2 separate regions of the Homo sapiens genome follow, and region 2 is linked to region 1. Evidence: fine-mapped expression QTL. Tissue or cell type: prefrontal cortex. Region 1 holds a variant in brackets; the other region holds the start of a gene. All regions are shown on one strand. Distances are between the middles of the regions.

Region 1 (5,377 bases):
AAATAGCTGTGGACACCCAGAACCAGTTGGAATTTGCCTCAAACAATATCGCAGTCTTTCATCAGTGATTTGTGTGTCTGCCTGAGTGGAAAGCCTGAGTTGGTGGAAGGAGAAGAATTTCTTTCTTTTTCAAAGAAAAAACGTAAAAGAAAACAAACACATGAACAAACAAACAAGGAAAACTGCCATTCAGCTAAGTGGCAGGAAGAGCTAAGATCAAGGACTCCAAGGGGAAGATGAGGCCAATTTTACCTTTAAAAATGAGACTTAAGCAAACACAATAACCAAATCCCCTTTTCAAATGGAGTTTAGTGGCTGGGCAGTGGGGCTCACACCTGTAATTGTGCTTTGGGAGGCTGAGGCACGAAGATTGCTTGAGGCTGAGAGTTTGAGGTCACAGTGAACTATTATTGCGCCACTGCACTCTAGCCTGGGTGAGAGAGACAAGTTGTCTCTTAAAAACAAACAAACAAAAAAGGGATTAGTGGAACTATGGTAAAGACATTTCCATCATGTATTTATTTAATAATCTAATATTTGCTTTATGAAATTATGATCTTTGGCTCTGCCGCTGTATGCAGTTGAAGTTTAACACTGTCTCTATAGCCAGGCTGGACCTGCTCACTTGTGCAGCTGTAGAAAGAAGGCATCTAGCTGTGCTATTCACAGGCTGAGGCCTCACAGTGCCTGCTCTGTAACCCCTCCACCGAGACCGGTTGAGGCATTTTTCTGTAAGAATCTTGAAATATAGCAAACATGGTTAAACTCTTTGGGAGTCATCTAGCTGACCATGAGAGGACATTGATGTCCCTGCAGGGCTCTGTAGCCTGGGCCAGAGGGTGCCTGGCCAAGTCCCACAGCTTAGTGGGAACTTCAACTTAAGGGGTTGGTGCTGGCCAGCAAGACTGGCATAGCGCCCCTGAAAAGACCTGTTGGCAACAAAGACAGTTTTCTTACTTCATTAACACCGAAAGTTGCTCCTGAAGCTGTCCATCAGCGCTTATAATTTGCCTATGACAAAAGGAGAGGGCGAATAAGACGAAAACATTGGATTGTCTGGTTTGAATTTCACCTTCTAACTAGACATGGGTGCAGGAAGAAGAAAAAATAAGTGGATGTGAACTTACTCAGATCGCAAGCCATAAGACCAGGATTTAAATCGAGCTTCTTGGCTATCTTTTCCTTAGGAAAGCATTAGAAACACTAGCTTTTTTGGTGAGGTGTGTTGTAGTCACATTAGGCCTGAAATATGACATTTGGGACTACACAGAGAAATTAAATGTCATTTATTTAATAATAATTAGGGTAGGCAGAATAATGCATCCCCTGGCCCCAAGATGTCCATGTCCTAATCTCCAAAACCTGTGAAGGTGACCTTACATGGCACAAGAGACTTTGCAGATAGGATTAAGTTAAGGACCTTGCGATGGAGAGGTGACCCTGGATTCTTTGGGTGGGCTGCCCACTTACAATAGTACTTATAAAAGGGAAGCAGGAGGGTCAGAGTCGGAGGAGATGTGATGATGAGCAGAGAGCACAGTCAGAGGGAGGTCTGAAGGTGCTGCACTGATAGCTTTGAAGATGGAGGAGGGGGCCATCAGCCATGGAAGGCAGGCTGCCTCTGGAAGCTGGAGAAGGCAAGGAAACAGATTCTTCTCTAGAGCCTCCAGAAGGAATGCAGCCTGCTGATACCTGGATTTTAGCCCCATGAAACTGATTCCAGACTTCTGACTGTAAGAAAATAAGTGTGTGTTGTTTTAAGACACTCCATTTGTAACTTATCATAGCAGCAATAGAAAACTTAATAAAATAATATAAACAATAATAACAATAATGCAGTTATACTTAGAAACATTAATTGGCATGCAAAATAAAAGGAATTTGTTTCAGGCTTGGTTCTCAAGACAGGGCATTAGTTCATAGTTCTCTTAATAGGTCGTGAAGTACAAAAGGGTTTTTGTTTTTGTCAGCCCCATAGACCCTTTCTCAGGGGTCTTTGTTTGCTATTTTTATGGGATAAAATCAGTGTCTTCATCGAGCTTTGCTGACATGTTCTTGAATATCTATGTATAGAATCAGAGTTGAGTTTTATTTCATCACTTGGATACCAAAACTCATATGTAGCCATATGTCCAGGTTTTGGG[G/A]GTCAGAAAGCTTCCAAGATCCTCACAAATTTTTATGATAAAGCCTGCATTGGTTTCAGCACAGACTCCTTGGAGAAGCACAGTTCTACCCTGTCAGCTCTGATCACAGCTCTGTCTCCACCCGCACTGTTTCTCGCTGACCTCTTCCTTCACAAGCCTGAAGAAAAGTGGCTTCCAGCCACCAGGGAAGTGAATTGAGGCCTGTTCTTCTCTCACTGAGAACTGTTCCACTTGAAAAATGGGCTTCATCCTTCAGAACACTTGTCTTGAGCACATGTTAGAAGCTATGATGTGTGCTAGCTGCTGGGGGAATGAATAAGATAAATAAGCTTTAAGTCTTACTTACTGGAAGCTCATGCCAGTGAAGCATTTGGCAAAGCACAGTGCCTTGGACAGAGGCATTTAATTCATCCAGGAAAGTTATTAAAAATGCGCATTCCTGGACTGTGGTTTGAGGAATCATTGGCCTAGTACTCTAGTTCTCAACTGGAGGTGATTTTGTTTCCCAGGGGACATTTGGCAATGTCTGGAGACATGCTTCATTGTCACAATCAGAGAATGAAGGGTGCCACTGCCATCTAGCAGGTAGAGGCCAGGGATGCTGCTGTACATCCTACAGTGCATAGAACAGCCTCCAAAGCAAATAATCACCTGACCCCAAATGTCAGGAGTGTGAAGGTTGAGGAACTCTAATCTAGTGGGTAAGACACACAAATACACACACACACACACACACACACACACACACACACACACTTATACCACTGTGGTGTATACATGCCCAGATGTATCCTACTATAGTGTGTGTATATGTGTATGTATATGTATATGTATATATGTGTGTATATCTATATAAACACCTCTGTTAATGTTTTTAAAGTATTATATGCTCTGGGGCAGTAAGTGCACTGCCCTCTAGCTCTGTCTGAGAAATCTAGGGTGGGCTGAAAGCTGAGTTCCCACACTTGGCAGCTCATCAGGAACACATCTTGTATCAGTCAAGGTCTCATCAGGAGGCATAAACCATACCAGTTATTTGAAAATAGAGGATTAAATATAAAGAACTATTAACTAGGTAACTGAATGGCAAAAAGAGAATTCTAAGTTATTGTGACAATGCCACCTACTAGATGATACCACCACCTCTAGGGTCGGGGAACAATGGGATGAGAGTAGAATTATTAAAACTTAGAGGAGGGGCTATGTGGAGCTGAAATTCAGACTTCTGAGGAGGGAGTGCCAGCTGGCTGGAGTAGAATGTTGAGATGAAGCTGGTTTTACTTGCATGAAATGTTGGAAAATCTCTAAACTGGGTTCAGTTGCTGATGTGGGAAGGAAGTGCTGCTGCCTGGTGAAGAAGCATTAATGGGGACAGGAGGCCAAGGGAAACAAACAGAAGGAACCAGTCCCTTATCTGGTGCCCCTATAGGCAGAGCCTATCTTGGACTAAGCTAGCAAAGCAGAAATGTGGCATGCAGAGCCTCAGCTTCAACACCAGAAAGCAAAGTGCGAATTAGGTTGTGTGGGTTTGGAGTCCAGAGACAATAGCTTAGTGACGACTGAGACATAGTTGCAGCTTTAATAAAATACAGTTGCCTGGGTTCTGCATTAGAATCTTGGACATGAAGCTGTCAATAATTTTTTTTTTTTACAAGAGTCCTGTGGGTGATTCTGACCCACTGCCTAGATTGAGCACCCTGAATAGAATGAGGAGCCACTAAAAGTTTTAAAGCATGGAAATGGCCCATTATTATTTGTAGATTCAAAAGCATGTTCTTTCAACTGAGTGGAAGAGGTGAGTAAAGGTCCTGTGTTAGTGGATTATAAATTAGCTATGGGGATGGTGAACACTTTATCTTCTTCCTAAGAGCAGAAAGAGAGAAGTCCCAAACTTTCAGATTTCCATATTAGGGGCATCTTGTTTAAAATGTAAAAGAGGGAGAGAAGGAAAGAAGGGAGGTGGGAGGAGAAGACAACATGAAAGGAAAAAGCCCTGGAGGCAAAAGGTGATGCATAATTTGGATTTTATCTAAGTAAGTAACAAAAATGTGGGCAATATATTTTATCTAAGCCATTTTGATAAAAAGCAGACATAAAGCTACAACCAGCATCTACCAGGGAAGACACAAGAGACGTCTAGAAGGAGAGAAAGTTCTGGCCATCGCTTTGATTATACTTCACACTCCAGCTGAGAAATTGTGCTGTGGTCTTTGGAAGGAAAGGCCCTATTAGATGGAAATAACTCAGCTTGGATGTTAGAACTAAATTTACATTTCAACCCTGCCACTTACTTGTTGGGTGGCAGATTTTCTGAGCAATTTCTTTAAGGCTTAGAGGCTCATTCTCTGCTGTAGGGGTGACAAAAGCATGCCCACAGGGTCTTCTGGAGACTTACGTAAAATGATAAAAGTACCTAAGCACAGTACCTGGCACAACCCAGGCTTGTCACTCACTACCTATTGGAGGTGTCCTGTCTCCCCTTGTCTACTCTGCTACTGTCCCCTCAGTCTGCCACCTCATCTGCTGTCACTCTTCTGCTTTGATTTGTAGATTAGACTATTCTTTGCAGACCAAAAACAGGGAAAACCAAATCTGAAAATCTTTACTCCAGGAAGTTAAGTGTCATGCTCTGTAAACTTAGCAAGATACAGTTCTAGGCCAAAGTAAGGCATGGCTAAGGACATTCATGGTTTTTGGTGAAGCTTTTTGACCCAATTTGTAATTCAGACTGGTTGCTTTGCTCACATATCAACTTTTCATTACAGGCTGATGTGATGTAAGATTATGGACCACACTTAAATCCTTTGCACTAAAGACGTATTTCTCCCCTACACTGCCCCCTCCAACTTCTCTCTCTTTTCTTCCCACTTCCATCTCAGAAGCAACTCTAGAGAAAAAAATAGAGAACTCTATTTTTTTCCCCAAAGAATTTGGCATAGGAAAAATTGCTCTAGAATGTGGAAGAGTGTAGCTGAGTCATTGTAACGGGTTAGCACTGCACTACTCTGCTCCCAGCCTCTTGTTAGGGAGCCAAGCTCTGCTCCTGTTTGGGAGATGAGTGCCACATCACACGCTACAAGGTGGTTTTCAGCCCCCAAGTCTCACTGGGCACTCAGCTGTTGGAGAAGCATCGTGTATGCACATGGCTGTTGTTTTATCGTCTTGAACCCATCACTATATTCAGGAAGATAGGTTTTTATTATGCCACAAACCTGCTGCTCTAGGTAAACTTT
Region 2 (5,377 bases), 130 kb before region 1:
TTTATCTTTATCAAGTGTAAATGCCTTTTTTAAGGTGTAACTTTCTCAAGTTTATGAAATACCTTGCACCCTGCCCTAGTGGTAGGTATCACAATCTCTTTACCCTGTTTCCTTTGGGAAGGGTCTATTGGTTTCTACTTTTAGGAAGCTGGGTTGATGTGATTTCTCTAGAAGCATCTTTCAGACTTGAATCCACGTGACTAAGTTGTATGTTCAGTTGAATTTTTCAGTGAGAATTTAGCATCGTAGTTTTGAGAGGAGATGAAGAAAGTTGCTCTTACTGCAGGCCTGGCCCCTTTTAATCTGATTAGGTTTCACAGTTTATTTTCCAGAGAAAGAGATGAGACAGAGTTTTGTCTAATTGAGACTGGGACAGGCCCAGAGTTAAACATTGGTCTTTGGGCCCCATCACCTCTTTCCCCTTGAAAAATGTCATAAGCAGACCCAAATACACATTTTTTCCCCTCATTTTGATTTCAGCCAAAGCCATTTTGGGATTTGGATGGTACCACTATTTATTTAGTTAAACTGTGAAGGCAGATCTGTGTGCTTTTCAGTGCAGGCATTCTTTTTTCTTTTTGACCCTGGAATATCTCCGTTTTGTGTAGACAGAGACCAGTTGTCAGCTGATAGACTATCACTTGAGGGGTGATGGCAGCAGTAGATGCATGGGAAAACATCTTGATAAGGCCTTGGAGAAAAGGCTGCTCTTTCGGAAGCAGGGCCCATTTGCCAAGAAGGCAGCAAGGGAAATCGCTGGTGGCAGAGGCTTATAACAAACAGGAAGAAGAGACAGGTTTGCCAAAGGCTTCTGTGCATTTTTCCCCTTCGCAAACTTTCAGACAGATGAAAATGTTTTTAAGGTGGTTTTTGGGTTTGCACCTACAGGGAGAGTTCCAGTGCATTCCAAAGCACCATGCTGCACATTATGGAAATGCCACACACAGCTAGATTCTATCATAAAGAAATTTGTCATGCAAATTCTGAGGATGTTTGGCTGGTGTCAGGGAGGGAAGGCATATCAAAGTAACTCAGGCACACCCTTCAAATGTCTTGCAATTTCATAGCATGCATTTATCCAAATTTATGGCTAAGGCAACAAAAGGTCTCCCAGCTTCCTTATTCTTCAGCTTTCCATAATTAAATTATGATAAACAACTTTATCTAAAAGCCTCATCCAGGGACAATCTTTTTAGATAGAGGAGATAGTGGTTCCAACTGATTGTACTTATCTGCAGCAATAAAGGTTTCTATTTATTTAATTTTTAATTTTAATTTTATTTATTTTTTAATGAGTCCCTGGGAAGTAAGGCTGGATTTAGAGATTTTTCTCTTTTTGCATATTATCTTTATGATTAGTAAATACATAAACACACTGGTTTCCGAGAAGCTGCCTGGCCATGGCTTTATTTGGGTGGGGGGAGGGAGGGAAGGAATCACACATCAGCCTTCTCTTTCAATTTAAATTTTACGGTAAGAATCTATTTTGGGAGGGAAATGGAGCATGCTAAGCTAATGACAGTTTTCCCTTCTCTTATTTTTCCCACGTCACAGCAACGTGCTCGCATCAGCTCCTCGGTGTGTCGCGATGTTGGCAATGTTGCACTAATTAAGTGAAGTCTCCAAATCACTCGAAAAAACGAATAAACAGTCAACGAGGCAGGGAAGGGTTAAGGTGAAGCTAGATTAAACCTGTCAGCAAACAGACTCATTTATTTTCAAAGCTGTAGTTTCCACAATGGAAACAACCCACTTTGCCTGGAGACCCTTAGGTCCGTTCCGTGGGGACCCGGTTTCAACTCTTGGACAGAGGAAGTCGGTAGTCCACCGTGAGCTCAAGGACAGCTAGCTGATCGTCAGGTCCCAACACTTGCCAAGCGTCCCTCACTCCCACCTCGCGCCTTCGTACTTTGGTTACAAAAATCATCTCTCTGCGATTGCACCCCTTTTGAGTAGAGGGTGCCACTGCGTGGGGAGGAGGCGGCGATTCAGCAGGGGGATCACAGGAGCTGACTCCCCGACACCCAGTGCTGCAGAGGCGAGAGGGCGCAGCCGGGCTGAGAGAGCGACGGAGCTCCGAGCTGCAGAGGCCGCCGCGCGGCGGCCCCCGCCAGAGATGAGCGGTGGGGCGGGGGTTCCTCCCTCTTTTCGGGTGAATGAATGATTAGTCAAACACCACCTCCCCGCCCCGGTCCGCCCGAGATTGGAAGGGAGGAGTCTCGGAGCGACTGTTCATTTTTTAAGGACGAAAGGCGTTTGCCTCGGTACGTTTTTAAATCGACCTTGTGTGTGTTTCAACTTCGGTCATCCCTAGTGTCAGGACGCGCAGACAGCTAAGCACAGAACACATCTCTAAGGCCACTTGCCCCTCTGTCCGCTCAGCCCCCTGAGTTCGCTGTCGCGCCCCCGCCAGAGGGAAGCAAAGCAGGGCATGAAAAGTTGCGGGGGCCCTACTGCCCCGGGTGTGTCGCTCCTTCCCAAAGGTGGGGCACCCGGGAGCGAGCAGGGTGGTGGGGCGCCCCTGCGTCCCGTTTGCTGCTCCCTCGCTGGATTGGGGCACCCGGGCCTGAGCGCTAGTGCTGCGGCATCCCCGGGGCTCCCCCAAGAAAGGGAGGAGGAGCCGCGCTCGCCCGGACAGTGGAGACGCGCCTTCTCGGCTCTGGTCCGCGCCCTGGGGCCCTGGCCTCCCTGGAGGGGCTGGGGAACTGGAAGCTGGGCCGAGAGAGTTCCCGCTGCAGCTATCGCGCAGTCCCTCCTGCGCCCGGGCGCCCCCAGCGGGTTCCGGGAGGCGCCCGGTGAGCCCACGTCTGTTGCGGCGGAGCGAGCGCGCTCCGGGAGGGCCGAGAGCCGGCGGGGCTGGCAGGAGGTGAGGAGTGCGGGAGTGGAGGACGCTGCGGCAGCGACAGCGACAGCCCCCGAAACAGTAGCGGCAGCCCGGGCGGCGGCTGAGCGGCAGTGCGCAGTCGGCAGCGCCGCAGCTCCTCTCAGTCTATCTCCGGCTGCCGCAACACCCCTTCCTCCTGGCCCCCTCTCCGGCGCTGAGGGGCTGACTGCTAAGCCACTGCAAGCAACTCCCTCAGGAAAAAAAAAAAAAAAGCCGCATCGGAGGAGCCTGGCCGCAGGACCCCTCCTCCCCGGGCGCCCCCACACCTTGGTCTCTCCCCCCGCCCTCCCTCACACCCCCCCGCCCCCCAGCTCTCGGGCGCCCGCCTCCCTCCTTCGCGGACGGTCTCCCGACACGCCGGCTGAGAGCCCTTTTCGACTGTGAGCTGCGGCAGCTGAGCAGAGGCGGCGGCGCGGGACCTGCAGTCGCCAGGGATTCCCTCCAGGTGACGATGCTCTGGTTCTCCGGCGTCGGGGCTCTGGCTGAGCGTTACTGCCGCCGCTCGCCTGGGATTACGTGCTGCGTCTTGCTGCTACTCAATTGCTCGGGGGTCCCCATGTCTCTGGCTTCCTCCTTCTTGACAGGTAGGGGAGGGGGCGGGAGGGACCGGCCCTCCGGGACGCCGGTTTGGTACCTGGGAAAGGTGGCGCTGGCTTGCCCCGGGGATGGGAGGGTGGGGAGCGCGCACCTTGGCGCTTGCCCTGCGCTGGTCGATGGGGATGAAGCGAAGCCCCGGGAGGGCTGGGAAGGCTGGTGAAGAGGTTGCGGGCTGAGAGGCTGTTGCCTTCAATGTAGTAATAATAGACATTCTTCTATTTGAATTTGAGAAATTATTTTATTTATTTTTAATGCTTTCCTCAACTTTTATTTTAATCTTTCCCTCTGTAGAACTCAGGAAAAAAATTTGTGCAGTTTTCCGCACATCTTCCTTTCTCATCTTTGGGGTTGCAATACATCCACTGTGCTAGGAGTGCTTTTTAAAGCACTGGCTCTCAAGACCTTGAATTTAAAGAAACTATCATTTAAAAAGGGCACTAATAGCCGGATATAATAATTATATGTTTTCAGGCAGGTGAAGACCTCAGCTGCTATTCTGAAGGACATACTTTACTGACACCTGGTGCAGAAAAGAAAATATGGAGTCAATTTCTAAGAGAAGGGAAAAGGGGATTGCGTTTCAAAAAGTGATTTAAACCTAAGACAATGCGAGACAGATTCATAGAAAGGCCTGTTTATTGACTCAGTTCTGAGTTTTGGTCAATTTAAAATCTGCCCCAATTTGAGGGTTTTTTTAAATTTTATTTTTTATTTTTTTCTTTGCGTATGGGGCTGTGTGCTTAGTTGAAATATCTTCATAAAGGAGGAGTGTTATTAAAAATCCAGTGAAATACTTGGAATTGTGCTTAGACCATCTGAGAACAGATAATTTATCCCTATATCATAGTCTTTTCTTTTTTGAACCTGTTTAAATAAAATTATTGAAAATGGAGTTGGGGGCAGAGGTTTTGCTTTGGTGAATTTAATAATTTAAACCACATTAAGAATTCTGAAGTTTGGGTAGAGGTTTCAAAAAGGATTAGTGTAAAAATTTTAAATGTTGAAATCATGCTGCTAAGCTAACTTTAAATGAAACATTTTTCCCCCCTGAATTTCAGGTTCTGTTGCAAAATGTGAAAATGAAGGTGAAGTCCTCCAGATTCCATTTATCACAGACAACCCTTGCATAATGTGTGTCTGCTTGGTAAGTGTGGAGATCAGGTAATATGAACTCAACTGCTCTCTCTGATAAGGTGAATCCATTAAATGTGATAATATAACCAGATCTTACAAATTGTCTTTATCATTACAAAATTGCACATAACTGTACATAGTTTGTGAGTTGAATCCAGTTAATTTCTGAGTTTTATGGACTTTGGCAATTTCCATTTCATCCAGCTGGAAATTCTTATCTTTGACATCATCCTTATAGACGTAAATTTCAGATAGGCTTTGTATGACGTCTCGGTGAAATGACAGTTTGTAATGTCTGTTTCCAGTAATGATTACTACAACCAAATTCTTGGGACAACAAAACTTTCTGCGTTGGTTCTGTCATTTAAGCTCAGTGGGAAAATGATGAGATAAGATTTAAGTATGAAGGTCAGGAATAAGGTATGCGACAAAGGGAAAGAGAGGTGACAGCCACAAAAAACAAACATAAGGACAAGATGTAATTCTGGATTTCTTTCTCGGGTTTCTTTGCCTGTTATACCCTAAACCCTCAAATACTGTCTTTATTTCTGATTTGGAAGCATGAGTCGGAAAGGACAATTCCATCCTTAATAGAGAATGACACTTGGCTGTCAGCTGCTTAGTTAACACTATCAGTGGTTAGAAGACTCAAAAAATAATTTGTTTCCATTTATTTTAGTTTAGTAGTTAATGATAAGTCTAATAAGTAACCACTTGGGGGAGATTAAGTAATGTGAATAAGAATTTCTGAGATGAAATATA

Evidence for each region.
Region 2: BMPER starts here. The variant in region 1 is fine-mapped to the expression of BMPER in prefrontal cortex (CommonMind, PIP 0.95).

Annotation. Positions count from the first base shown.
Region 1 is chr7:34,036,744-34,042,120 of GRCh38, forward strand. The region is part of intron 6 of BMPER (BMP binding endothelial regulator); the gene reads left to right. Among named protein-coding and RNA genes, the nearest start is that of BMPER, 130 kb to the left of the region's middle. The variant G/A (reference allele first, on the strand shown) is at 2,145.
Region 2 is chr7:33,902,279-33,907,655 of GRCh38, forward strand. It overlaps BMPER (BMP binding endothelial regulator), which reads left to right and starts at 3,261. Exons shown (of 15, transcript NM_001365308.1): 1 at 3,261-3,468; 2 at 4,540-4,625. The coding sequence starts at 3,336.